Homo sapiens: one gene and its partners. The protein of the gene in region 1 purifies or fractionates together with the protein of each later gene. This does not show direct contact. Each region holds a gene or a part of one and is shown in the gene's direction. Other genes may lie near its edges.

What was found.
Region 2: the proteins of THBS3 (region 1) and SH3BP4 purify together in Homo sapiens (affinity purification with mass spectrometry; 3 studies listed by BioGRID and IntAct, with this or other methods). This does not show direct contact.
Region 3: the proteins of THBS3 (region 1) and PEX6 purify together in Homo sapiens (affinity purification with mass spectrometry; 3 studies listed by BioGRID and IntAct, with this or other methods). This does not show direct contact.
Region 4: the proteins of THBS3 (region 1) and IQSEC2 purify together in Homo sapiens (affinity purification with mass spectrometry; 3 studies listed by BioGRID and IntAct, with this or other methods). This does not show direct contact.
Region 5: the proteins of THBS3 (region 1) and MKS1 purify together in Homo sapiens (affinity purification with mass spectrometry; 3 studies listed by BioGRID and IntAct, with this or other methods). This does not show direct contact.
Region 6: the proteins of THBS3 (region 1) and DIP2A purify together in Homo sapiens (affinity purification with mass spectrometry; 3 studies listed by BioGRID and IntAct, with this or other methods). This does not show direct contact.
Region 7: the proteins of THBS3 (region 1) and MTPAP purify together in Homo sapiens (affinity purification with mass spectrometry; 3 studies listed by BioGRID and IntAct, with this or other methods). This does not show direct contact.

Annotation. Positions count from the first base shown.
Region 1 is NC_000001.11:155,201,398-155,204,897, reverse strand, and holds part of THBS3 (thrombospondin-3 isoform 1 precursor), read left to right. Parts: coding exon 1-43; intron 44-1,358; coding exon 1,359-1,385; intron 1,386-1,592; coding exon 1,593-1,675; exon of another isoform or gene 1,676-1,760; coding exon 1,761-1,812; intron 1,813-1,937; coding exon 1,938-2,086; intron 2,087-2,496; coding exon 2,497-2,637; intron 2,638-2,783; coding exon of another isoform or gene 2,784-2,863; coding exon 2,864-2,941; intron 2,942-3,328; coding exon 3,329-3,481; intron 3,482-3,500. UniProt on the Homo sapiens protein: Adhesive glycoprotein that mediates cell-to-cell and cell-to-matrix interactions. Can bind to fibrinogen, fibronectin, laminin and type V collagen.
Region 2 is NC_000002.12:235,046,017-235,049,516, forward strand, and holds part of SH3BP4 (SH3 domain-binding protein 4), read left to right. Parts: intron 1-3,500. UniProt on the Homo sapiens protein: May function in transferrin receptor internalization at the plasma membrane through a cargo-specific control of clathrin-mediated endocytosis.
Region 3 is NC_000006.12:42,969,182-42,972,681, reverse strand, and holds part of PEX6 (peroxisome biogenesis factor 6), read left to right. Parts: intron 1-2,694; coding exon 2,695-2,797; intron 2,798-2,880; coding exon 2,881-3,014; intron 3,015-3,500. UniProt on the Homo sapiens protein: Component of the PEX1-PEX6 AAA ATPase complex, a protein dislocase complex that mediates the ATP-dependent extraction of the PEX5 receptor from peroxisomal membranes, an essential step for PEX5 recycling.
Region 4 is NC_000023.11:53,241,351-53,244,850, reverse strand, and holds part of IQSEC2 (IQ motif and SEC7 domain-containing protein 2), read left to right. Parts: intron 1-1,379; coding exon 1,380-1,519; intron 1,520-2,941; coding exon 2,942-3,067; intron 3,068-3,500. UniProt on the Homo sapiens protein: Is a guanine nucleotide exchange factor for the ARF GTP-binding proteins.
Region 5 is NC_000017.11:58,209,256-58,212,755, reverse strand, and holds part of MKS1 (tectonic-like complex member MKS1), read left to right. Parts: intron 1-321; coding exon 322-378; intron 379-1,733; coding exon 1,734-1,776; intron 1,777-2,031; coding exon 2,032-2,097; intron 2,098-3,500. UniProt on the Homo sapiens protein: Component of the tectonic-like complex, a complex localized at the transition zone of primary cilia and acting as a barrier that prevents diffusion of transmembrane proteins between the cilia and plasma membranes.
Region 6 is NC_000021.9:46,535,391-46,538,890, forward strand, and holds part of DIP2A (disco-interacting protein 2 homolog A), read left to right. Parts: intron 1-1,833; coding exon 1,834-1,898; intron 1,899-2,055; coding exon 2,056-2,149; intron 2,150-3,092; coding exon 3,093-3,212; intron 3,213-3,500. UniProt on the Homo sapiens protein: Catalyzes the de novo synthesis of acetyl-CoA in vitro. Promotes acetylation of CTTN, possibly by providing the acetyl donor, ensuring correct dendritic spine morphology and synaptic transmission.
Region 7 is NC_000010.11:30,342,779-30,346,278, reverse strand, and holds part of MTPAP (poly(A) RNA polymerase, mitochondrial precursor), read left to right. Parts: intron 1-3,500. UniProt on the Homo sapiens protein: Polymerase that creates the 3' poly(A) tail of mitochondrial transcripts. Can use all four nucleotides, but has higher activity with ATP and UTP (in vitro). Plays a role in replication-dependent histone mRNA degradation.

The DNA of each region.
Region 1 (3,500 bases):
AGTGAGTGTCCATTCCAAGGGGACGAGTCCATCCACAGTGCAGGTAACACAGAGACTTGTTTGCTGACATTGGACCACGGATCCTGTGGCCTTTGGTGACTCCTGTCTTCTTGATCTCCCTCTCCCTTAAAACCCATTCCTTTGGCTCACCTGTTCCTAGGGTTTCTAACCCTGTTATTCCAAATCTTTCACCTGACTCCACAATCTCCAATACACCCATCCGAGAAAAAAAGTGATCTAAGAGAAGAATTGGTTAATTGCTTGGCCTTGGCTGACCAAGAGATACTGGTCTCGAGTATTTTTTTTTTTTTTGGTGATGGAGTCTTGTCCTGTTGCCCAGGCCGGAGTGCAGTGGTGCAATCTGGGTCACTGCAGTCTCCACTGAGTTCAAGTGATTCTCCTGCCTCAGCCTCCCAAGCAGCTGGGATTACAGGCGCCCTCCACCATGCCTAGCTAATTTTTGCATTTTTAGTAGAGATGGGATTTCACCACGTTGGCCAGGCTGGTCTCAAACACCTAATCTCAAGTGATGCACCCACCTCGGCCTCTCAAAGTGCTGGGATTACAGGCGTAAGCCACCGCGCCCGGCCTGGTCTCGAGTCTTTTATAGTTCTCACTGGCAGCTGTCACCAGCAATTTCTCTGAGTGTTGCCCATCTGCCTGGTCTCTCTGACAGGGATGTTCAGAAGCTCTCACCTAAATAAAAGACCCACCTTTCCCAGATATTTGAGGGAGAGCTCTTGAAGAAGGGAATGGGATGGCGGGTGTGGTGGCTCACACCTGTAATCCCAGCACTTTGGGAGGCTGAGGTGGGCTGATCCCTCAAGGTCCGGAGTTCAAGACCAGCCTGGCCAACACTGTGAAACCTCCTCTCTACTAAAAAATACAAAAAATTAGCTGGGCATGGTGGTGGGCACCTGTAGTCCCAGCTACTTGGGAGGCGGAGGCAGGAGAGTTGCTTGAACCCAGGAGGTGGAGGTTGTGGTGAGCAGAGATCACGCCACTGCATTCCAGCCTGGGAAACAGAGCAAGACTCCGACTCAAAAAAAAAAAAAATGGGGATATACTGGGGCCCTGGCCCTGCTTTGGGTCCATCCCTTCTGCCACTACCATGCCTAGGAACCAGGAGGATTTGGGTTCTAACTTCCTGTGAAGCAACTCCCTTAGAGGGCCTTTTGCCCCATAGAAGGAGCTGGCACTGCTTGTCTGCCAGCTCTGCCCTCCCAGCATCCAGCACCCCATCTTTATTCTGGGGCTCCAGCCCTGTCCCTGTCCTCACCTTCCTTCCTCCTTCTCACCAACCAGGCCTCTCTTCACTTCACCTCACCCCTCTGACTATGTTTTCTTCTCCTCTCCAGTGACCAATGCACTGCACTCCATTCTAGGTGAGTAGGCCACACTGAAGCGGAAGCGGGGAGCGGGGAGGAGGCCCCAGGCTCTGGCAGCTGCCTGAAACTAAGTCCTCTTCAGTCAGGAATGTAGTAGGTTTAAAGGCAGGGGTGGGCAGCCGTGGCAGGTACTGGCTTATTGCCCATGGAGGGCCCAGGACTGGTGCTCCAGTACTGAACCCCTCACACCCTGGGTCCCGACAGGGGAGCAGACCAAGGCGCTGGTCACCCAACTCACCCTCTTCAACCAGATCCTGGTGGAGCTGCGGGATGATATACGAGACCAGGTTTGGGTGGGCTGGCGAAGGGTGGCACTGATTCTGGGGTAGGGTGGCAGATGTCAAGTGCTGACTCCTCCCCATCCTTCTCCAGGTGAAGGAAATGTCCCTGATCCGAAACACCATTATGGAGTGTCAGGTGTGCGGTGAGTGGGAGAGCAGGGGAGGCTCCACATGACCGTGCCACGTTCCCCACCCAATGGCTTTGGCTTTCCCTTCTGGTGGCTTAAATAGTGACCACCGGGTAGCTCTGACTGTGTCCACCCCTCAGGCTTCCATGAGCAGCGTTCCCACTGCAGCCCCAATCCCTGCTTCCGAGGTGTGGACTGCATGGAAGTGTACGAGTACCCAGGCTACCGCTGTGGGCCCTGCCCCCCTGGCCTGCAGGGCAACGGCACCCACTGCAGTGACATCAATGAGGTGAGGGAGGTCAGAGCCCAGAAGGGTACAGAAAACTGGGGTGAGGATGTCAGGAGGCACCCAAGAGGGTGGGATAAATGCTGGTCCGGAGGAGAGGAATCTGGAGTTTAGGAGAGGTCAGAGGCAAGAGAAATGCAAGATGGGAGAGACAGAAGGCCTGGGGCAAAGACTGAAGGCCATACAGGGAAGGAGCTGGGGAAACTGCAGGGGAGGCTTGAGATGGTGACCAGTGGCATGGGGAGGGAGAGAGGGAACCCCGAGGGAAGTGGGGTGGGGACCAGGAGCACAAGGCAGTTGTGTGGGGAGAGCTGCACAAAGGGGAGACCTGGAGCAATGGTTCCTGGATCACAGGCAGGGACCTGAGTTTCCCAGAGGGCGGCCTGACCTCTGCCTTCTCATCTGGTCCCCAGTGTGCTCACGCTGACCCCTGTTTCCCGGGCTCCAGCTGCATCAACACCATGCCCGGCTTCCACTGTGAGGCCTGTCCTCGAGGGTACAAGGGCACACAGGTGTCTGGTGTGGGCATTGACTATGCCCGGGCCAGCAAACAGGTCAGACTGGGTAGTGTGTGTGGACAAGGGATCTTGGCCTTGTAGAGGCCAGGGGCTTCTGGGTTGGACATGGGACCCTTGTGATGAATGGGACATGGATGGCTTTGCATCGGCTTTGGGTCTGGGCTTAATGTTGATGTTCACAGATAAGGCCATACCAGTGTCCTCTGCTGTATCTGAGGAGACCCACCATAGGTCTGGTTCCACCCAAAGTCTGCCCCTTCAGGTCTGCAATGACATCGATGAATGCAACGATGGCAACAATGGTGGCTGTGACCCAAACTCCATCTGCACCAACACTGTGGTGAGCTGAATATCCTGAGTGTATTCTGGGGTGGTGGGAATGGTAAAACCCCAACCCCCGCCCCTTCTTACCTTCAAATTTCCTGCTGCCTTTCCTCCTCCCCAGGGCACTACACAGATTAGGTGTTCACATGGACTTGGTTTGGAATACTGGTTTGCCTCTTGCTAGCTCTTTAGCAGGTTATTTAACTTTTCTGAGCCTCAGCTTCCTCATCTGAAAACTGAGGCTGTTATCCACCCTGAAAGGTTGTCATGATAACCTAAAGGAGATACTGATATGCCTGGCATAACTGAGTGCCCAGCCCACACTCCGCAGGTGGAGCAGTGCTGGTCCTGGGTGCCTGGTGGGCTCACCCTCCTTCCTAAGATGCTGCCTCTCCACTCTTAGGGCTCTTTCAAGTGTGGTCCCTGCCGCCTGGGTTTCCTGGGCAACCAGAGCCAGGGCTGCCTCCCAGCCCGGACCTGCCACAGCCCAGCCCACAGCCCCTGCCACATCCATGCTCACTGTCTCTTTGAACGCAATGGTGCAGTGTCCTGCCAGGTGAGCTAGGCTTCAGGCG
Region 2 (3,500 bases), on another chromosome or scaffold:
AAGTCGTGTAAGATCTGGCCCTACCCATCCCAACCCTGGGGGCCACTGTGCTCTGTGCACCCCTGCCCTGAACACACCCAGCTCGCCCGGCCTCCAGCTCCTGCAGATGCTATGCTGTTCCTCTTCCTGGAGCTCCCTTTCCCAGACCTCCTCATCTCCCTCAGCTGCCAGCTCAAATGCCGTCTCTCCAGGACGTCCTTCTCTGCAGCCCCGCGCACTCCATCATCCTCTGTCTCCATGGTGTTTCTTGAATCAGAAGCGGTTTGTTTTGGCCAGGCATGGAGGTTCACACCTGTAATACCAGCACTTTGGGAGGCTGAGACAGGAGAATCGCTTGAGCCCGGGAATTCAAGACCAGCCTGAGCAACATAGTGAGGCTTCATCTCTCCAATTTTTTTTTTTTAAATCAGCCAGGTGTGTTGGTGTGCACCTGTAGTCCCAGCTACTTGGGAGGCTGAGGTGGGAGGATCACTTGAGCCCAGGAGGTCGAGGCTACACTGAGCTATGATCGCAGCACTGCACTCCAGCCTGGACAACAGAGTGAAACCCTGTCTTGAAAATAAAGGAAGAGAAGAAAAGAAACAAGTTTGTTTATGTTCTTGTGCACTTGTTTCTCATTATTACTCTAACTGAACATAGGTCCCATGAGAGGAAGGGCCCCGGCACATAAGAATCACTGAGGTACTAGATGGATAAGTGATTGAATGAATGAATGATGGATGAATGAATGAATGATGAATGAATGAATGAATGAATGCAGGCCTTGGGCTGGGCTAAGAATCCAAGCGGGAGGCATTCTCACGTGGCCATACCATGCTTCTGTTCTGTGGTTCCATTTCCTCTTTCCATTCTTTTTGTGCCTGTTTTTGATAGAGTCCGTGTGTGAGGCATCCCCGTACCTCTGCCTGCCCCTTCCCAGCAGCATGGCTGTGGCTGCACTCAGAGCACCCCTCTGTCCTGGCCACTTCTCTCCCACCAGAGCCTCTGTCCGTGATGGTGTCAGCTGAAGAATGACAAGGTTTGTTCATTTGGAAAGGAGAGCCTCATTCCTCATAAAGGGTTGCAGCCTGTGGGTGGCTATTCTGACAGGTTGGGAAGCAGAGCCTCCTGCCAGAAGCCAAAAACAGACACTTCAAGGGAGGGGCAAAGGCAACAAGAATTTATGGATATTGGTGGCCAAATATACATATTCAATAAGCCGTAGGGGGAGTCATGAGTATTTATGAAAGGAGAAATGTGCACATTCACATTTAAGCCTTGTGCTCCTTCAGGGGTCCCATGTACAAAAAATGGTGGCAGTGGCATGATTCAAGGGTAGGGTTTTCTTTCAGCCCCCTGATGCGTCAGAGGCGAAGCAGGGGACATGAAACCCTCGCTGTGCATCCTCTGTAGACTGGCCAGAAACACTGCGTGGTCGGTGGGCTCCCGTCAGGCAAAGAGGAGGGGCAGCGTCTGGCAGTGGTAGAGGCCTTTGAAAGGGAACCCAGCTTTTTAAGAATCAGAAAAGTCATTCAGCAGCGCCCTTTTGATGCAAGAGACTATTCCCAATTCTCGGGATACTGTCAGCACTCGGCACATGGTCTCTGTTATGGTGGGGAAGGAAGGGGAGTCAGCTGGAGATAGCCGTGGGCAGTGGCCATCAGCCATGGGAGCAGAAGCAGCCCACGGTGGCCTCAGGCCCAGGGAGAACTTCCTAAGGGGCCAGAGTGAGCTGTCACAACTGGTCCTGGATCCACCATAAGAACGAAGCCGTGGGGTGTGGTGACCTGGAGCCGTCGGTGATGGCTGTAGCAGGGGCGTTTTGGTCAAGTTGCGGGAGGTAGGGAAATAGGCGTGTCGGGCTCTGTAGAGAAGTTTCTATGAGAAAGGGAAGGAGTTGCTGTGGGATGCAAAGCAAGGGAGGGTGGTTGTTTTGGGAGTGGAGTGGGGGCCGGAATAAACCCAAAGAGACTTGAAAACTAACAGAAATAAGGAAGCTAGCAAGTGCATGGGGCGCATTGGGGCGGGAAAGACTGGTGTGGTGTGAAGGGACTCTCTGTGGATTGGGAGAAGACCCACTTTAACCTCCAGAAGAGGAGGAGTTGATGGACAGTGTGCATTGGATGGGGTCCTGAGGGATTCCTCCCAGGCAGCCCCAAAGCCAGAGCCTGTGGCTGTTAATGTGGGAGAGGGAAGGAGGATGGGCCCATTGTCCAGATGCCATGTGCAGAAGGCTTCCCCTCGAGTTTTGGGGCATGTTGGGAAGGAAGCAGGATGGAATAAACATGCAGCAAAAAAGCCTAAATTGTATTTCTTTGTACTTTATAAGAGTATTTTCCCCCGCCCCTTTTTTGAGAAAAGGTCTCGCTCTGTCTCCTAGGCGGGAGTGCAGTGGTGTGATCACAGCTCACTGCAGCCTCGAACTCCTGGGCTCAAGCAGTCCTCCCACCTCAGCCTCCCAAGTAGCTGGGACTACAAGCAGGTGCCACCACACCCAGCTAATTTTTTTTTTTTTTTGTCTGTAGTAGAGACAAGGTTTGATTGTGTTGCCCAGGCCGGTGTGGAACTCATTGAGCTCAAGCTATCCTCCCACCTCAGCCTACCAAAATGCTGGTATTATAGGGGTGAGCCACCATGGCTGGACAAGAATATCTCTTGAAGCAAGTTCCCAGACTCTGGCCGCCAGGCCCGCTATTCCTGTCAATGGCGTTTTGTTGGAACTCAGCCACACCCATTCCCATCTGCATCGTCTGTGGCTTTCAGGCTTCGTGTGTCCCACAAAGGCAAAAGTACTATCTGTCCCTTTATAAAGTTCAGTCACCCTGACTGAAATCATGGTGTACTCACTGTAACAAAATTCCAGTTGAAACCAGGGTAGTGCAGCAGTCCATCGAGTGTTTCCTGGTGTACCTGTGTGCCCATAAAAAGAGGAAGCTGCAAGGATCAAGTTCATAGAGCTAGAGCCTCCTGCTGTGAAATTTTTCTATTGCTAAGAATTGGTTGGCACCCAAAATTTGTCCTTTAAAAATATGCATCAGTTATGCCTTGTTGATGGTGTGGGTGGTTTGTAACAAACTAAACCAGGGCTGGGCTCAGTAAAAGTTGTGTAAGTGAGTGAGGGAGAGATGCCTTCATTCTTGGTGTTGGAAGTGCCGACCTCTCCTTTCATCTGGGATCCATGGAAATGGGACCTTGGCTGCCCCTGGATGGAGTCCAGGCGCTCTCCTTCCCAGGGGCCAGAGAACACCTGTGTTTCCCAGGACCTTGGGGACCTGTGCCCAGTTCCCCTGGGGAGAGAGCGGTTTTGATCACTCGCACCAGGAATGACTCGAGTCAGAAGCAGGTGACTTTGACCTGTTCTGTTACCTAGAAAATGAGGCCACTTTGGAGCCAGGCAGCTGTGCACACAGCCAGATTAGCTTGGTGTGTGCTGAGTAGCCACGAAAGAGCTGAGTTGGGGACATTGAGTGACTTCGTGTCAAACCCTGTGGTGGTCCAGCACACCTTCCCAGGACCACAGA
Region 3 (3,500 bases), on another chromosome or scaffold:
TCTCCTGCCTCAGCCTCCCAAGTAGCTGGGACTACAGGTGCCCACCACCACGCCCGGCTAATTTTTTGTATTTTTAGTAGAGATTGGGTTTCACCGTGTTAACCAGGATGGTCTCGATCTCCTGACCTTGTGATCCGCCCGCCTCGGCCTCCCAAAGTGCTGGGATTACAGGCGTGAGCCACCGCACCCAGCCAGGGATTTCTATTGTTTTTGAGAGGGCTACCCTGTCCTATCAACAGAGAATGAGAAATAGAGCATAACCGAGCCAAGAACCCAAAATAAGGAATCCAGCTTTTCTCCTCTTGTTGACTCTGACCACAGAGGTTCCATGTAAAATGGTGAGGCAAAGAATTGAGACACTGCTTTAGCCTTATGTGTAGGGAGGAAAATGTATAGCTCTGTATCCCAGCATTCCCTGTATTCTGGACTCATTTCCTGCAGCAGTTTACTAGAAGGAGAGCACAGCTGATAGATGCACTAACTCATACATAAGAGCCTTCATGTCCAAGGTCTGTGGCATAGCCAGCCTGGGTCCTCTGCCAGGAGAGACAGTCCTTGTTTGGAGTGCCTGATGTTCATCCCTGGTCAATATCCAGTGCTTGGTTCTGGCCAGTGCTCAGTACCCCCAGTCTCAGGGTGGTGGTGCTCTGTGGAACCCCATTTAGGCTCCATGTCACCTCTTCGAGGTTTTCCAGATTAAGTCCACGAGTCTGGTGGAAAATGCCAGGCTGGCACTTAGCAGTCACTTCCCACCTCTCTCTCCTATCATAAATTTAGCAAACGTCTTTGAGCTAGCTTTCAGTAGGAAAACTACAGAATGCCCACTCTTTGTACTTTCAAAGGAAAATAGGCACTAGAACCTCATGAGACAGGCTGGCAAGCCAGTTCTGTTCCTGAACTTCTATTGTCTCAACTCTGTAGAACCCTGCTTTCCTCCTGAGTGCCGAGCACATAGTTCTTTTCCCCGCAAGGAAAGCAGGGTTGGAGTAAGTGGCCCAATGGGTCCAAGGACAGATACAGATGAGCGTTTTAAGCTGCACTGGGCTTGAGAAGGGAAGCCCTGCAGAAGTTCCTGTGAGCCCTGGAAAGGAATTCCACTGTTGGTGTAGCCTCTTCATCCTGTCCCTGGTGCTCCACTTCCCCAAACCAGGCTGCATGGGAGCCAGCTCCACTATCACCTATCTGGCTGGCTGGAGCACAGCTCAGTGTTCCTTAGCAGTGTCCACATAGGTTCCAGAGCTCTGGCCTTTCTATTCACTGAGGTGGTCCAACCACCCTCCACTGAAGAAGGTGGTCTCTCCCTATGCCACAGTGCTGTCCCCCATCTCATTCCTATGCAGGGCTTCCATGGTGAGTCATACACACCATGACTCAGCTGTTGAGCTTGATCGAGATCCTAGGTTAGAGGCCCACTGTCACCTATTTATAATTAATTATAGGCAGATTCAGGCTTCCTGATGTTCCAGGTTTACTGTAGTACTTAGAAGAGTTTCATAATACTAACCTGGTATGCTTCCCCTCCACCTTGCTGCACTCTCACACCCCTTTGCTGCTAGAGAGAGCAGCTTTGAGACTGTGGGGCAGTGTGAGCAGAGGAATTTGCAGCCTGATTGGACCTTAAAGAGGACTAGGTTATAGCCTGACTCTGTCATTGCCTTGCTGCCTGAGGATTAAAGAGGGAAGTAGTTCATGATTTCTTTATCTGGAAAATTGGGTTAGTAGCTGTTCCTGCTACCCATCCTATTCCCCGTTAGTAGGTTGAATAACCCTAACTCACTATGACACTCGCCAACTACTGCGCAGCCCTGGTTATGCATCAGAATTGCTGGGGAAGCTTTCAAAAAATACAGGTGCCTAAGCCCCACCCCAGATCTATTGGGGCAGAATCAGGGTGAGACTGGAGCCTGTGCTTTTTTTCCTTCACAAAGGAAGGAGAAAGGTTAATTTTAAAAACATAAAATTCACACACCATAAAACCATACTTTTAAAGTATACAATTCAATTTTTTTATTCATAAGGTTGTACAGCCAACATCACTGTTTCATTCCAGAACATTTTCAACATCTCAAAAAGAAACTCTGCACCCATTAGCAGTCATTCCCTGTAGCTTCCCTCATAGGCAATGGCAACTGCTGATCTGCTGAATAGAATCATATAATATGTGAGAAATGTTTAGTTTTTAAAGTTACACAGATAATTCCAATGTGCAGCCAGAATACAGAACCATTATTCATCAGATGGCATTATTAAGGACTCCGCCTGCAATGAGATTTTGTGGATTATTGAGTAAGAGCCAAGGGACCCTTCCCCCTAGGGTTTTTGGGGCCTGGATGGCTGTGTATTTGAGGGGGAGACCGAAGCCAGTAGAAGTAATCAGATGATCCACTGCTTAGTGCAGCAGCAGCTTCTCCCATTGGTGTGGGTGGGTAGGCCACATGCCTGGAGAAACACACCCCCTCAGAGCTCTCATGGCTGTCATGGGGGATGCAGAGGGACAGGCATAGCTCTTGCCCTCAAGGTGTGTATGGTCTGTCAGGAAGATGAGAAAGTCCATCTGCATTCCTTTTCCCCACCATGACTCGGGACACGCTCTTGTGGTGCTTTTGTTTGTCCTCTGTGATTGAGAAACCTTGTCCTTGAGGAGGGGGGTTTTTGGACTCTGGATCTGGGGTTCATTGGGCCTTTTTCCTGCAGGTGGCGGGAAATGTTTTTTAAAGTGAAGAAAACAGTTGGGGAAGCTCCAGATGGACCAGCCAGTGCCTACTTGGCCGACACCACCCATACCTCCTTGTACATGGTGAGGCCCCAAGGATGGGTGTAGACCAGCGCAGGGGGTAGAAACGATTTTTAGAAACGAAAGCTTTTTATTACCTTTCACAGGTGGGTTCTACCCTGAGCCCTGTTCCATGGCTCCCTTCAGAGGAATCCACTCTCTGGAGCAGTTTGTCTCCTCCAGGCCTGGAGGCCTTGGTGTCTGAACTCTGTGCTGTCCTGAAGCCTCGCCTCCAGCCAGGGTGAGTGAGGTCATCACCCCAGGGTGTGAGAAAAGCCTGCTTAGAACATCCCTGGAGGAGCAGCAGCCAGATGGGTAGTTCCTAATGAACTGGCCAGAGTGGGATTGGGAGGACCTTCCTCAAACCAGTATGTCCTACACAAGGCCACCAGGCCACTCCTTTCTGTAAGCCAATTCCCAGGCTCCTTTCCTGGGATAACCTCTGTCCTCCAGGGCTGGCTCTGGAGGAAGAATCTCCAGCAGGGGCATCTGTTTCTGAGACTGCCCTTCCCCTTGGGGAGCTCACTGGCCATCCTGCACTTTACTGCCCTGGCCCTGAAGGACACAACTCCTCATACCAGTGGCCCAGGTGTGGACGCAGATCCCCACCTCAGTGCCACCACAATGTCTCTCAATACCATTCAGACCAGTCATAACGTTGAGGTTTTATTGGCAGCACAGCAATGCCAAAGGGAATTAATTAGTCTTTGGCTGTTGGATATGCTGG
Region 4 (3,500 bases), on another chromosome or scaffold:
ATTAGAAAATTTCTTTTTATCACCCAAAATGTGCCCCCTAGAGGCAATCATAGTTAATGTTTTGGTGCGTTCTAATCTTTTCCCCCATGCATATGTAACTTTTTATATAGTTCAGATCATACCACACATGCAATTTATCTTACTCTTTTCCCATAATTTGCTACTGTAATTTTCTCATGCTATTGAAATGTTTTTGTAAATGTCAAGTTTTTAATAGCTGTGCATTATCTTATTAAATGGATATACTATCCTCTATTGTTAAAATTTAGGTTGTTTCAAATTGTCCCCATAAGTAACACTTAGTGAGTTTTTTTTTTTTTTTTTTGAGACAGGGTCTTGCTCTGTTGCCTAGGCTGGAGTGCAGTGGTGCAATCATGGTTCACTGCAACCTCCTCCTCCCAGGCTCAAGCTATTATCCCACTTCAGCCTCCCAAGTAGCTGGGGCCACAGGTGTGTGCCACCACACCCAGCTAATTTTTGTATTTTTTGTAGAGATGGGATTTTGCCATGTTGCCCAGGTTGGCTCTCGAATTCCTGGGCTCGAGCGATCCACCTGCCTCAGCCTCCCAAAGTGCTGGGATTATACCACGCCTGCCCTAGCATTCTTTTTTTTCTTTTTCTTTTTTTTTTTTTTGAGACAGAGTCTCAATCTTGTTGCTCAGGCTGGAGTGCAGTGGCGCGATCTTGGCTCACTACAGCCTCTGCCTCCCGGGTTCAAGCAATTCTGCCTCAGCCTCCCGAGTACCTGGGACTACAGGCACATGGTGCCATGCCTGGCTAATTTTTTGTATTTTTAGTACAGATGAGGTTTCACCATGTTGGCCAGGATGGTCTTGATCTCCTGACCTCGTGATCCACCTGCCTCGGCCTCCCAAAGTGCTGGGAGTACAGGCGTGAGCCACCATGCCCCGCCTGCACTAGCATTCTTGCACATACCTCTTGCACATATTTCTGAGTAGTTCCTTAGGGTAGATTCCTAGAAGAGAATCACTGGGTACAAACATTTAGGTTCTTGCCAAATTACCTTCCAAAAGAGTTATGTTACCATACATGCCCACTTCCCTGCACTCTTCCTAGCACTGGATTTCATTTTAAATTATTTTTGCTAATTAGGAAGGCAAACAATAGTATCTGATTGTTTTAATTACAGTGTATTCTGAGTTGTTGAGAAAAAATTCCCCACTCTGGGGAAGATAGCAACTGGCTGTTGTACTGAAGGACACCCTCCCTGCCCCAATCCTGGCTAAGGGGCCGAGGGTACCCATTGACCCTCAGTCCTGACTATCGTGGCCCGTGCCTGGGTGTGGGGGTGGTGGAGCACCCCTACCACCCAGTGCCCATAATTATGTGACATATCCCTGTGTTACTCCCTCCCCCAGGGGTTGACAATGGTGAAGACATCCCCCGAGACCTCCTGGTGGGCATCTACCAGCGCATCCAGGGGCGTGAACTGCGGACCAACGATGACCATGTGTCCCAGGTGCAGGCTGTGGAGCGCATGATTGTTGGAAAGAAACCAGTAAGTGCCTTGGGAGGCTGCAGAGGGGCCAGGGTTCAGGTCTGCCTCTGCCACTAAGTGGTAAGTCACTGCACCTCCCTGAGCCCCAGGTGCCCTTTACCTGCAATACAGAGTGGGTGATAATGCATTCCTCAGAAGGCTGTGGTGCAGAGTGAATGCATCGAGCACATTCCAAGGCCCATAGTGGGTACTATATAAATATTAGCATCCTTTTCACCTCCGGCTTTGCCTGTCCATCCTAAGTGAAGAGCCAAGCTAATGGTTAGCAGAAAACCAAAGTAAGAACACACTTTAGGCCAGGTACAATGGCTTGTGCCTGTAATCCCAGCACTTTGGGAGGCCGAGGTGGGTGGATCACCTCAGGTCAGGAGTTCCAGACCAGCCTGGCTATCATGGCAAAACCCTGTCTCTACTAAAAATACAAAAATTAGCTGCGGGCGTGATGGTGCATGCCTGGAGTTCCAGCTACTCAGGAGGCTGAGGCAGGAGAATTGCTTGAACCCGGGAGGCGGAGGTTGCAGTGAGCTGAGATCGTGCCAACGCACTCCAGCCTGGGGCCACAGAGCAAGACTCCGTCTCAAAAAAAGAAAAAAAAAAAGAAAACGCTTTAGCCAACAAACATTTGTGGATGCCTTTCCACTGAGCCCAGCATTTGCTGGGCACCAGAGTTGGTGCTGGGCATTCATAGATATGAATCAGACGTGTTCTCTATCCTTGGGGGCACTCACAGACCAGTCGGGGTGTGAAACAAAGACACATATAATACTTCTGCTTTATGGTCCAGTTTAGGAGAGGAGAAAGGAGAGAGAGACCATTTTCAGCCTGGAGAAATCAGGGAAGGCTTCTTGGAAGAGATCATTTTGGGATTGAATTTTTTTTTTTTTTTTTTTTTTTTTTTGACATGGAGTTTCACTCTGTCACTCAGGCTGGAGTGGAGTGGCATGATCTCGGCTCATTGCAACCTCTACCTCCTGGGTTCAAACGATTCTCCTGCCTCAGCCTCCTGAGTACCTGGGATTGCAGGCGCCCACCACCACACCCAGCTAATTTTTGTGTTTTTAGTAGAGACGGGGTTTCACCATGTTGGCCAGGCTGATCTCGAACTCCTGACCTCAAGTGATCCGCTCGCCTCGGCCTCCCAAAGTGCTGGGATTACAGGCGTGAGCCACTGCGCCCGGCCGGGATGGAAATTTGAAAGGGAGTTGAAATATGACCATGCAGAGCTGGGCAAGAAAGACATTCCAGACAGAAGGGCAAAGGCAAGGTAGCAGATAAGTTTAGGTCTTAGTTGCTGATACCCCTTGTGTCAGAGTGACACACATGTATGAGTGGTAAACTTCTTGCGGTTGAAAGTTAAGGTGCCAGGAGGCCTGAAGCTGATGGGCTGGCCTTGCTGACACCTGTTTCTTCATGCCTGTCTAGGTCCTGTCTCTCCCTCACCGTCGACTGGTTTGCTGCTGCCAGCTCTACGAGGTGCCAGATCCAAACCGCCCCCAGAGGCTAGGGTTGCATCAGCGGGAGGTCTTCCTCTTCAATGATCTCCTTGTGGTATGAGCACTGTGGGGGAGGAGATGGGAGGGAGAGAGTGAGCTTGACACCTAAGTCTGGTGTGAACCATATTGATGTAGGTGTGTGGTGTGTGGAGTGTGGCGGGCGAGGTGTTCTGCCATGCCATCTGCATGGTCTCAGGCAAGGCCCAGGCCTTCTCTGCCCCTCCTTTTCCTCACAGATGCATTTGGAGGTAGTAACAGACACACAGGGACAGAAAATATGAGGACCAAAGGAGATGACAGACTTACAACCTGGGAAGTGGTAGGAAATATCCCTGTCCACCTCAATAGCCCATAGGGTTGTGTGAAGAGGGGTGAACCTGCGACCCCCCAGGTCAGTCTGGAAATCTTCAGTAATCAAGATGCTTGAAGTGGGCTCGGCACTGTGGCTCACACCTATAGTCCCAGAACTTTGGGAGGCCAGGGCAGTT
Region 5 (3,500 bases), on another chromosome or scaffold:
TACATACCTTATTTCCTTTAGTCTTTACAACAACCCTTTGAGGTGAACACTTATTACCACCTTATAAGTGGGGAAACCGAGATTGAGGAGCTAAGTAGTCTGCCCAAGGTGGCATAGCTTGTAAGGGCGAGAGTCAGGATTCTGCCCCAGACCAGCTGACTCCAGGGCCTCTGCTTCACGGTAAAATGGCGGTGAGTCAGGTGCTTACGCCTCCAGCTCTTGCTGACCCTTCCCACTATTGCTTTTCTTCTTCCCATTCAGAACTGAACTTTGGTCTAGCTTGGGTTGCATCTTGAGTTTTGGTTTGGTTTGTTTCCTCAGCTTTATGGCCGGCACAAGGAGTATCTCAGCAGCCTCGTAGGCACCGACTTTGAGATGGTGAGTAGCTTGGCTTCCTGCAGCACTGTGAGCTGTGTTTAGCCGGAGCATTCTGACTGTGGATGAGTTACACTACCTCTCTTAAAGGCCCAAAGGTATACTCTACAGTGTGAAAAGGAAGTCAAAGAATAGCACATATAGTCCTTGTTATGTGTTTTGCAACATTGCATGTTGATAGAGAACTGTTAATGCTAAGAAAAAGGTCTGAAAGGCTATGCACATGCTGTGGGTGGCTTTCTCTGGGGAGGGTGGGATTAGATGTGGTAGAAGGGTAGTGGGTGGTGAGAGGGATATATTAGGGATTTTTGCTTTTTATTCCCTAAACTTAGGTAGCTTTGAATTTTTATCAGTTGTAATGTATTTAGGTATTACTTTATAATTAATTTAAAAAATAAATATAAGGATGAAAAATGTCTTCTTCACCTTTCATGTGGATATTTTTTCAAAATACCCCATAGAGAGGCAGGGGTGCCATTTCTGTTTGTCACATATTTTGGCTCTTAAAAAATATAGGCCTGATGCGGTGGCGCATGACTATAATCCCAGCACTTTGTGAGGCCAAGGTGGGAGGATCACTTGAAGCCAGGAGTTTGAGAGCAGCCTGGGCAACATAGTGAGACCACATCCCTACAAAAAAAAAAAAAAAAATTAGCAAGGCATGGTGATACATACCTGTAGTCCCAGCTACTCATGATGCTGAGGCAGCAGGATTGCTTGAGCCTAGAAGTTTGAGTTTGCATTGAGCTATGATCACACCACTGCATTCCAGCCTGGACAACAGATCAAGACCCTGTCTGAAAAAAAAAGAAAGTGGTTTAGTTCAGCTATTCTGTTGTGCTGTTCTTTGTCTTTTCTCATTCTAAGAGTTCTATCTCTAGACCTGGAAACAAGGATAGAATTACTTCCTGGTCTCCCTCTCTTTCTCTGAAAAATTAACCTTCACTATTTCCATATTGCATAAGCAACAGATATTCAGTATTTAAAAGTTAGATAAGACATGCACAAATAATTAAAAAAGAAAACTCCCTGGTTTCTTGACCTCAGCCATCTAAAGGGAAGAGGGCGTTCTGGCTTCCCATTGCACACCACAGGACAGTTGCTGTTGCTTGAATAATTTCCCATAGTGCATTGTCCTCACTGCCATTTAAATTATGTACTTTCCCCCTACATTGTGAATCTTAGGAATGAAGGAAACAGATCTGTGGAGAAGTGTCAGGGTGGGGAGAAAGTGCAGTAGTGACACCCAGGGCCTGACCCCTAGTGGCAGGTCGTCTGCAGATTTGTAGATGGGGCTGGAGGAGAAGTGCCAATTCCCTCCAGGCCTGCTGATCCTTTCCCACTTCTCTTCACCTTAGACTGTCCCAGGTGCCCTCCGGCTCTTTGTAAATGGAGAGGTCGGTAAGTGTCTTGCTAGCATAGATCTCTTGATGCTTAGGCACGTGCCTAGATGGAGCTGTGAATAGTCTCCTCCACTCTGGTAGAGGCCTTGTCTGCTGTACTTGGGAAACTCAGTGGTGAGTCTTTCCTGGAAACGCAGAGGGTTCCTGGCCCTCAAAAGACTTGCTCTCAGGGTGTGTAGGCCCCTCAGGATTGGGTTGGGTGCTAAGGGTGGTAGGAGAAAAAGCTAAAATAGCTTCCTGTTTTCTCTCGTAGTTTCAGCCCAAGGCTATGAGTATGACAATCTCTACGTCCACTTCTTTGTAGAATTGCCAACTGCTCGTAAGTAATATTCTTAAGTCTCTCCTTTTATACCCATTCAGACAGATCTAGAGGCATTTGGTCAGGCTTCCTTTCCCACTCCTCTGCTGAAACTGTTACTGTTCTTTTCAAGGTCATAGATCACATCCACTTTACCAAACCCAGTGGAGACTTCCCTGCTTTCACCTCGCTTGACCTTCCTGAAGCATTTTCCAGAGCCCACTGTGCTGCATGACACACTTCTCTGGCTTCTGGCTCCACACTTCTCTCTCCTATCTCGCTGGTGGCCCCTCATCCTTCTTGGGTGATGCCTTCCCTTCTGTTGATCTTAAACCGTGAGAGTACCCACAGCTAAGCCAAGGCCTTCTGTTACTCTCTGTCTGCAGTCTTCCTGGGCAACGTCATCCATCCTATGGCTTAAATACCATCAATACGTCTCAGACTCCCAGGTTTCTGCCTCTAGCCTTAACCTTTTCCCTGGACTCCAGACTCATATCCAGTTACCTCTTTTGTCATTTCTGTCTAACATGACCAAAAAGAACTCTTGATTCCTCCTCTTCCCTCAAACCTCTCCTCCCTGGTCTTCCCCATCCTAACAGAATGGCAGTGTCATCTACTGAGTTGTTGATGCCAAAAACCTAGGGAACATCCTTGATCCCTCACTTTCCCTAGCTCCCTATAGCCAGCCAATCTGTCAACAGTTCCTGTCCGTTCTGTCTTCAAAAGCTGTTGTGAACCTATTTGTTCTCTCCAGCACCCTACACCAAGCCACCACCATCTCTTGTCTAGGCCAGTGCATTCAACTTCTGATGTATCCCCCTGCTTCCTGCCTTGCTCCCATTTGCCGTTGATTTGCCACAGACACCAAAGCCAAGTTGAGCTTTAAAAAATGTAAACAAGTTATGTCCCTTTTGAGCTGAAAACCCCAACAGCTTCCCCTCCCACTTAGAGTAAAATGTAAACTTGATACCCTGAATGAGCTGGCCCCTGCCTATCTCTTCCATACAACCTTCCAGTCATTCTTCCCAGCCAGGTTCATTCCCACCTTGTAGCCTTTTAAGGGCCGTTTCCTTTGTCTGAAACCCTTTCTGCCATATCTTAGCATGGCTGGTTCTTTCTGAGTTTAGGTCTCAGCCTGTGTCGCCTCTGAGAGGCCTTCTCTTACCACCCAGTCTAAATGAGCCTCCCAATCACTCAGTCCCTTCCCCGTTTTGTTTTTAGTATAGCACTCATCACTACCCAATAGTCTCTTGTTGGTTTGGTTTTTGTCTGTCTCCCTGCTTCCCCCAGAATGTCAGCTCCATGAGAGATGGGGATCTTTTCTATCTAGTTACCAAGATACCCCTAAGATATACTAGCACATAGCAGGCACTCAGTAAATGGTAAATGAATGATTGATTGTGTGAATAAATGAATAAAGAAAC
Region 6 (3,500 bases), on another chromosome or scaffold:
GAGTGAAATTGAATGGTATGTCTAAATATCTAAAATATAGGTGTTCAGGCCAGGTGCAGTGGTTCATACCAGTAATCCCACCACTTTGGTAGGCTAAAGCAGGAGGAACACTTGAGGTCAAGAGTTTGAGAGCAGCCTGGACAACATAGTGAGACCCTGTCTCTACAAAAAAAGGGAGAAATTTTAAATAGAATTTTTAAAAAAGAAAAAAATATAGGTGTTTAAAAGCAAGGGTATAAGTTGAGGGCACAGCTAAAGCTTTTACTTGAGATTTGGAAAGTGATTTTAGGTATTTTTTAAGGGCTTTATTAAAAAAGTTAGATCTTTCAGATCAAGCCCCGTGACTTTCTTTGTCTTCAGCTCAGAGCTGATCTTACATATGTCACCTACAATTTGGGTTCTTTAGCCAGGCGTGATGATGTGTGCCTATAGTCCCAGCTACTCGGGAAGCTGAGGTAAGAGGACCGCCTGAGCCCAGGAGTTTTGGGCTGTAGTGGGCTGTGCTAACCAGGTATCTGCACGAAGTTTGGCAGCAACATGGTGACCTTCTAGGAGTGGGGAACCACCAGCTTGCTAAGGAGGGGTGAACCGACCCAAGTAGGAAAGGGAGCAGGTCAAAACTCCCATGCCAATGAGTAATGGGATTGTGCCTATGAATATTCACTGCACTGCAGCCTGGCAACGTAATAAGACCTCGTCTCTAAATAATAATGATAATAATTTGTGTTCTTAACCAACAGAGAAAGGGTGTTTATAGTACTGTTATTCATGGTGCAACAGCATTTCCTGGCACACAAATCAAACCTCTCCTGTTTGCCTTTGGAGTGCTGTGGCCTTTGGCGAGAAGCCAGGTCTGCCCACAGCCCCAGGCTCTGTCCTTTCTGCCTGTGCAAGGTGGGAGCCGGATATTAGAGAAGACTTGGCCAGGGGCTCTGAGCAGAGAGCTGTGCTGGGAACCCTCAGGACCCCTATCCACTCCAGCTTCCTAAGATGTGTTAGCTGCATACCTCTGGGTGAGAAAACGGGCAGAGGAAGAGTGACTTTCCGAAGGGTGATGCAAACCACCAGCTCTTACAGAGGGGAGATGCCGGATCACGGCCTCTGGGTGTGAGAATTGAGGAGATGTGGTGTAGAGTTGAGAAGTAAGAATATCCCTGACAGTTTTTCATCCCCACCTCTTGATTCTGAGAAGAATACCCACTCAAAAATATCTGATGAGAAGATGTGGAGAGGCCGAGTGCGGTGACTTACACCTGTAATCCCAGCACTTTGGGAGGCTGAGACGGGCAGATCACTTGAGGTCAGGAGTTTGAGACCAGCCTGGCCAACGTGGTGAAATCCCTTCTCTACTAAAAATACAAAAATTAGCCAGGCATGGCAGCGCATGCCTGTAGTCCCAGCTACTCGGGAGGCTCAGACAGGAGAATTGCTTGAACCTGGGAGGCGGAGGTTGCAGTGAGCTGAGATTGCTCCATTGCACTCTAGCCTGGGCAACAGAGCAAGACTCTGTCTCAAAAAAAAAAAAAAAGAAGAAAAGACAAGCTGTGGTGACACCTTGTATAGCTTCTTCAGTATGTGATGTTCCTGTGCCTTCTGATTAGTGCTCAGCGTGGTTCTCTGTGTTAGTTCCATGACCTTCTACTTTTATGTGTTTCCAGTAATTTGAATAGATAACCAGGATTATTATTAATTGGTATGTGGTATTTGGAAATGCTGTATCTGTTCCTGAAACTTACATGTTGATGACGTACTCACCTCAGAATTTCTCTAGAAAATGCATAGGGCTTATTGAGAGGGTTGCTCAGTGGTGTCACCTTCTTTGTCCACTTGCAGCTGAAACATTAACAAACGTGCTGGATTTCAAAAGGGATGCTGGTCTGTGGCATGGCGTGTTAACAGTGAGTGTTGTTTGCTGATGACTAACTGTTGGAACAAGGGATTGAGATGAACCCAAGCCTCTGCCTGAAATGTTGTTGGGAGAGTACATCGGTTTTGTTTTGCTTTTTCTGGTGTGGCTCGGGCCCACTCGCCCTAAGCATGTGTGCTCCCCCACAGAGCGTCATGAACAGGATGCACGTGGTCAGCGTCCCCTACGCGCTGATGAAGGCGAACCCACTCTCCTGGATCCAGAAAGTGTGCTTCTATAAAGGTAACGGATACCATGGTCAGGGCCTTCACCCTTCTTTAGGGAAATCTCTTTGAACTGACCTTTGGTGCTTAAGAAAAAATAAAGCTGACATGTGGAACTGCAGATGTAGGCTGAAGAGCTGTGGGACGTCTTTCTTGGTCACACCCCTGCCCAGGAATATGGGGGCTTTCTCTGCCTCTGGCATGGCCCTCAGGGTTTCGTGGGTGATGTGGTAAGTAGGGCCACTTGGTGGGGTCTGGGCCTTACTTCTCTCAACGGTTGAGGTGCCTCCTGGGACCAAGCAGGAGGCCCCAGCATGGCCACACCTGCACAGTTGGCAGTCTGTGTCTCTGCCCTGTGGAGCTCAGTGGCACTTCTACCAGCCACTGAGGCACTGGATCACCTGGGTCACCCATGTTGCCTTGTTCTACCTACTGGGCTGTGCCCCTCTAGACATGTCTCAGAGCAGTGTGGAGGGGCAGCTCTCTCTGTCTGTCCTACTTTATGGAGGGAAACTGAAGCTTGGGTAGGGGTGGGGGGATTGCTGGATTCCACATGCTAGCCAGTGCAGGGGCCAGACTGAGGCCTGAGACCATCTGTTTAGCTTCTGGGGTCCTCACACTTCTCAGCCAGCACCAGGGGTTTGGGGAAGGACAACATGAGATGAAGCGGGCAGATAGGAAAAGAGCAATATGGAGCTTCTAAGAAAAAATTAATGTTGGAAATGGATCTGAGGTTTTGATGTCTAAATTGTACCTCAGAGTTGATTTTTGTGGAAAAAGCTTTGAGGGTTTGTTAGACTGCATGTGAGAGACGGCTGCAGAGAGCTTGTGACCTGGGAGCTAAGTGTTGTGTCTGTCTGTGCATGTACACCTCTCTGTGGGATGAGGTACACGTGTCTGTAGGCGTGTGAGGGTGCCAGTCCTTGTGACGCAGGGATGTCTGTGCCATCCTCTCTCTGCAGCTCGGGCCGCGCTGGTGAAGTCGCGAGACATGCACTGGTCTCTCCTAGCTCAGCGGGGCCAGAGGGACGTCAGCCTCAGCTCACTGCGCATGCTGATTGTGGCCGATGGTGCCAACCCGTGTGAGTGAGCCTGTGTGCCCGGCGCATACCCCACACAGTGTCCCCTCCTGCAAACCAAAGTAGAATACACTGAGAAGCAAAATGGAGGCATTTTCACTGCCATTGTCATATAGATACACATGTCCCATCGTTTCTATGACACGGAACATCTTGGTGATTCACTGGTTTATCCCATGCATGTTTATTAGGCCACTAAATTTAAAAGCAATTTTAATATGCTTGATGAAAGGTACATGCCTTAATGAGAGTCATCTTTCTTAAGAAATTACCAGATTGTGCTGTGGCCTG
Region 7 (3,500 bases), on another chromosome or scaffold:
CCTTAAATTTGGATTTTTAAAAACGTTTGTCTCAATAAGGCCTGAAGTTCTTTATATGAATTCATTCTCTTCCTATCCTCAATCCAGAAGTTAAGACATTCCTATGATGCATCAGACTTTCAGGCCTCTTTTATAAAACTGCTAGGTTAATTTTTCCCCCATTACGTGCATGCATCTTTATTTTGTTTTTAATTCTAAATACAGGATAGTATTCTGTCTTTTTTTTTTTTTTTTTCTTTTGAGAAGGAGTCTCTCAGTCACCCAGGCTGGAGTTCAGTGGCGCTATCTCGGCTCAGTGCAACCTCTGCCTTCTAGCGATTCTCCTGCCTCAGCCTCTTGAGTACCTGGGATTACAGGCACGCGTTACCACACTTGGTTAATTTTTTGTATTTTTAGTAGAGATGGGATTTCACTATGTTGGCCAGGCTGGTTTGGAACTTCTGACCTCAAGTGATCCACCCTCCCTGACCTCCCAAAGTGCTGGGATTACAGGCATGAGCCACTGCACCTGGCCTATTCAGTCATTTCTTAATGTTAGTTTGTGCTTACCATATTGTATTATCAAGACCATTGCACATTTCAATCTGTCATAAAATATTAGCACTTATTAGTTCTTCCTTTTAATTTGTTATAGATTTGATAAACCTTTGGTGAGGCAATAAATTACCTCAACTTTCTGTTCCCGCCTTCACAACTTTGTCATCGTGTCTACATCATTCTTAACCTACTGTTGTTTACGGCTTTAGATTCTACCTTTTTCATCTTCTCAAGCACATTGCTCCATTTTTTTTAATCAAACTTTTCTATCTCATTCTCAAATGTAATCCCTGCTCTTTGCCAGCAGTCCACCTGCAGGGATATATTTGCATAAATGTGCAAAGACATTGCATACAGATGACATTGCAGCATTGTTTGTAATAGTGAAAAAATGGTAAACCACCTAAATATTTATCAATAGAGATTTGGCTAAACTATGATAAATACATATTTAAGAGTATATACTTTTTAAAAGAAATAAAGTAAATGTGTATCTTCTGATACGGGAAAATGTCCCCAATATATTAAATATCTTACAGCATGTTACAGAATATATAGTAAGATTTCAGTAAATTTCAGTTGTGTAAAAGATGTGTATCTATGGATACAAGTGTATATGTTTACATATACCTTGAAAATGTCTGAAAAGGTAAGTACCACAACTTAATGGTTGGCTGTTAGGGTAAGAGGACTGGGAGAGGACTTATGCTTCTACCTGAGAAAATTCTACACTGTTTGGGCCGGGCGCCATGGCTCACGCTTGTAATCCCGGCACTTTGGGAGGCCGAGGCAGGAGGATCACCTGAGGTCAGGAGTTCAAGAGCAGCCGGACCAACATGGTGAAACTCCTTCTCTACTAAAAATATAAAAATTAGCCTGGCGCAGTGGCAGGTCCTGTAATCCCAGCCACTCGGGAGGCTGAGGCAGGAGAATTGCTTGAACCCTGGAGGTGGAGATTGCGGTGAGCCGAGATCACACCACTGCACTCCAGCCTGGGCAATAGAGTGAGACTCTGTCTGGAAAATAAAAAAGAAAATTCTATGCTGTTTGACTTTACTTTTACAATACGCAGTTGGACATCAGTTTAGACTCAGTAAAAATCAGAGACGAGTGTGTAGGTGGCATTCACAACTGAAAAGGTGGTAAGGTGGTCTAGGCAGAGCCTGTAGCATAAGAGAAGGAAATAAGGACCACTTGGAGGAAGGACAGTTGGTAGACTGAGATCTAATTGAAAAGAATAGCCTCTGCCCTCAATATGGAAGAAAGTATTCTTCCATATTGTTAAATAAATATAACACTATGAATTACATTCCTTCATAGTTGTTAAAGTAAGGTAATACAGAGGTGGAAGAGATTCTGCCATGGAGAGTCAGAAGTCTTCACAGACCTGAGCAAGATTTGGAGGGTGAATGGGAGTTTGCCAGACAGAAAATGAGAAGGTAGACATTCCAACCAGAAGGAAGAAGACATAGATAGTTCATAGCATGTGATAGTATTGTGTGTGTAGAGTACCATATGTGAAAAGTACAACAGAAAGAAATGGTATAAGTGACATGAAAGAGGGGAGATGGGACATGGTGCAAGCACTTTATACCCATGCTATGGAGTTGAGATGTGATCCTAAAGGCAGTGGGGAAACCATTAAAGGATTTAAGCAGGTAAGCCAAAGAATAAGACTTAAAAAAAAAAGACCATTTTATAAAGAACACTTTGGCAGTTATGTGGAGGATAGCTTGAGAAAAACAAAACTAGGGTGAATGAGACTAGTTTAGGAGTCAGATTATTGTGATACAGGCCTGAAATAAGAGATTGATGTTAAAGAATTGTCATTGGGAATGGAGGCGAAGGCACATAGTTAAAAGCTGTATTTTCAGGCTTGGCGTGGTGGCGTCATGCCTGTAATTTCAGCACTTTGGGAGTCCAAGGAGGGAGGACTGCTTGAGGTCAGCAGTTCAAGACCAGCCTGACCAACGTAGTGAAACCCCATCTCTACTAAACATACAAAAATTAGCTGGGCGTGGTGGCGCACGCCTGTAATACCGGCTACTGGGGAGGTTGAGGCATGAGAATCGCTTGAACCTGGGAGGCGGAGATTGCAGTGAGCTGGGGTTGTGCCACTGCACTCCAGCCTGGGTGACAGAGGGAGACCTTGTCTCTTTAAAAAAAAAAAGAAAAAAGATAGTAAGATAGTGGGTTTGGAGTATTTCCTTGATCCATCAGTTTCATAGCCTTTTGGAAGAAAATGAGGCTAAAAGCTTCTGCTGATTTCTATACATCATTTACATTTTCTGTTCTATTTAATTTCTTTGGAATTTTAAGATTTTTTTTTTTTTTTTGAGACAGTCTCCCTCTGTCACTCAGGCTGGAGTGCAATGGTGCAATCTCGGATCACTGCAACCTCCTGGGTTGAAGTGATTCTCCTACCTCAGCCTCCCAAGTAACCGGGACTGCAGACACACGACACCACGCCTGGCTAATTTGGGCAGGCTGGTCTCAAACTCCTGGCCTCAGGTGATCCGCCCACCTCCGTCTCCCAAAGTGCTGGGATTACAGGTGTGAGCCACCGCGTCTGGCCTTGTTAAGGGTATTGATATCAGACTTGGTGGTTTATGATCTCTAGAGTCTACCATTCCAGACTTTTTAAAGAAACACCTTAAACTACTTAACTGGAAGTTAAAATCTTGGGGGAAAAAAATTAGTTGTTAACATTCAGGTTTGTGCTTTAATACTCTCTTAGAACTTGAATAATTTTTTTCTCTCTATACTTAGTTCATTTGTTGACCTTCCCATTGTGGCTAGTGGGTTATTAATATTTAATTCTTCACTGTCACAATTCTTGTCTTGATTCCCTGTGATTGTAAAACTCCTAGCCTCTTTCTTTCCTTAGTAAAATTATCAGGGAGCTCTTCATGGGCAGTAACGAGGTTTTAAATTCTTTGATTTCCCTGATACAGAGCGCATGA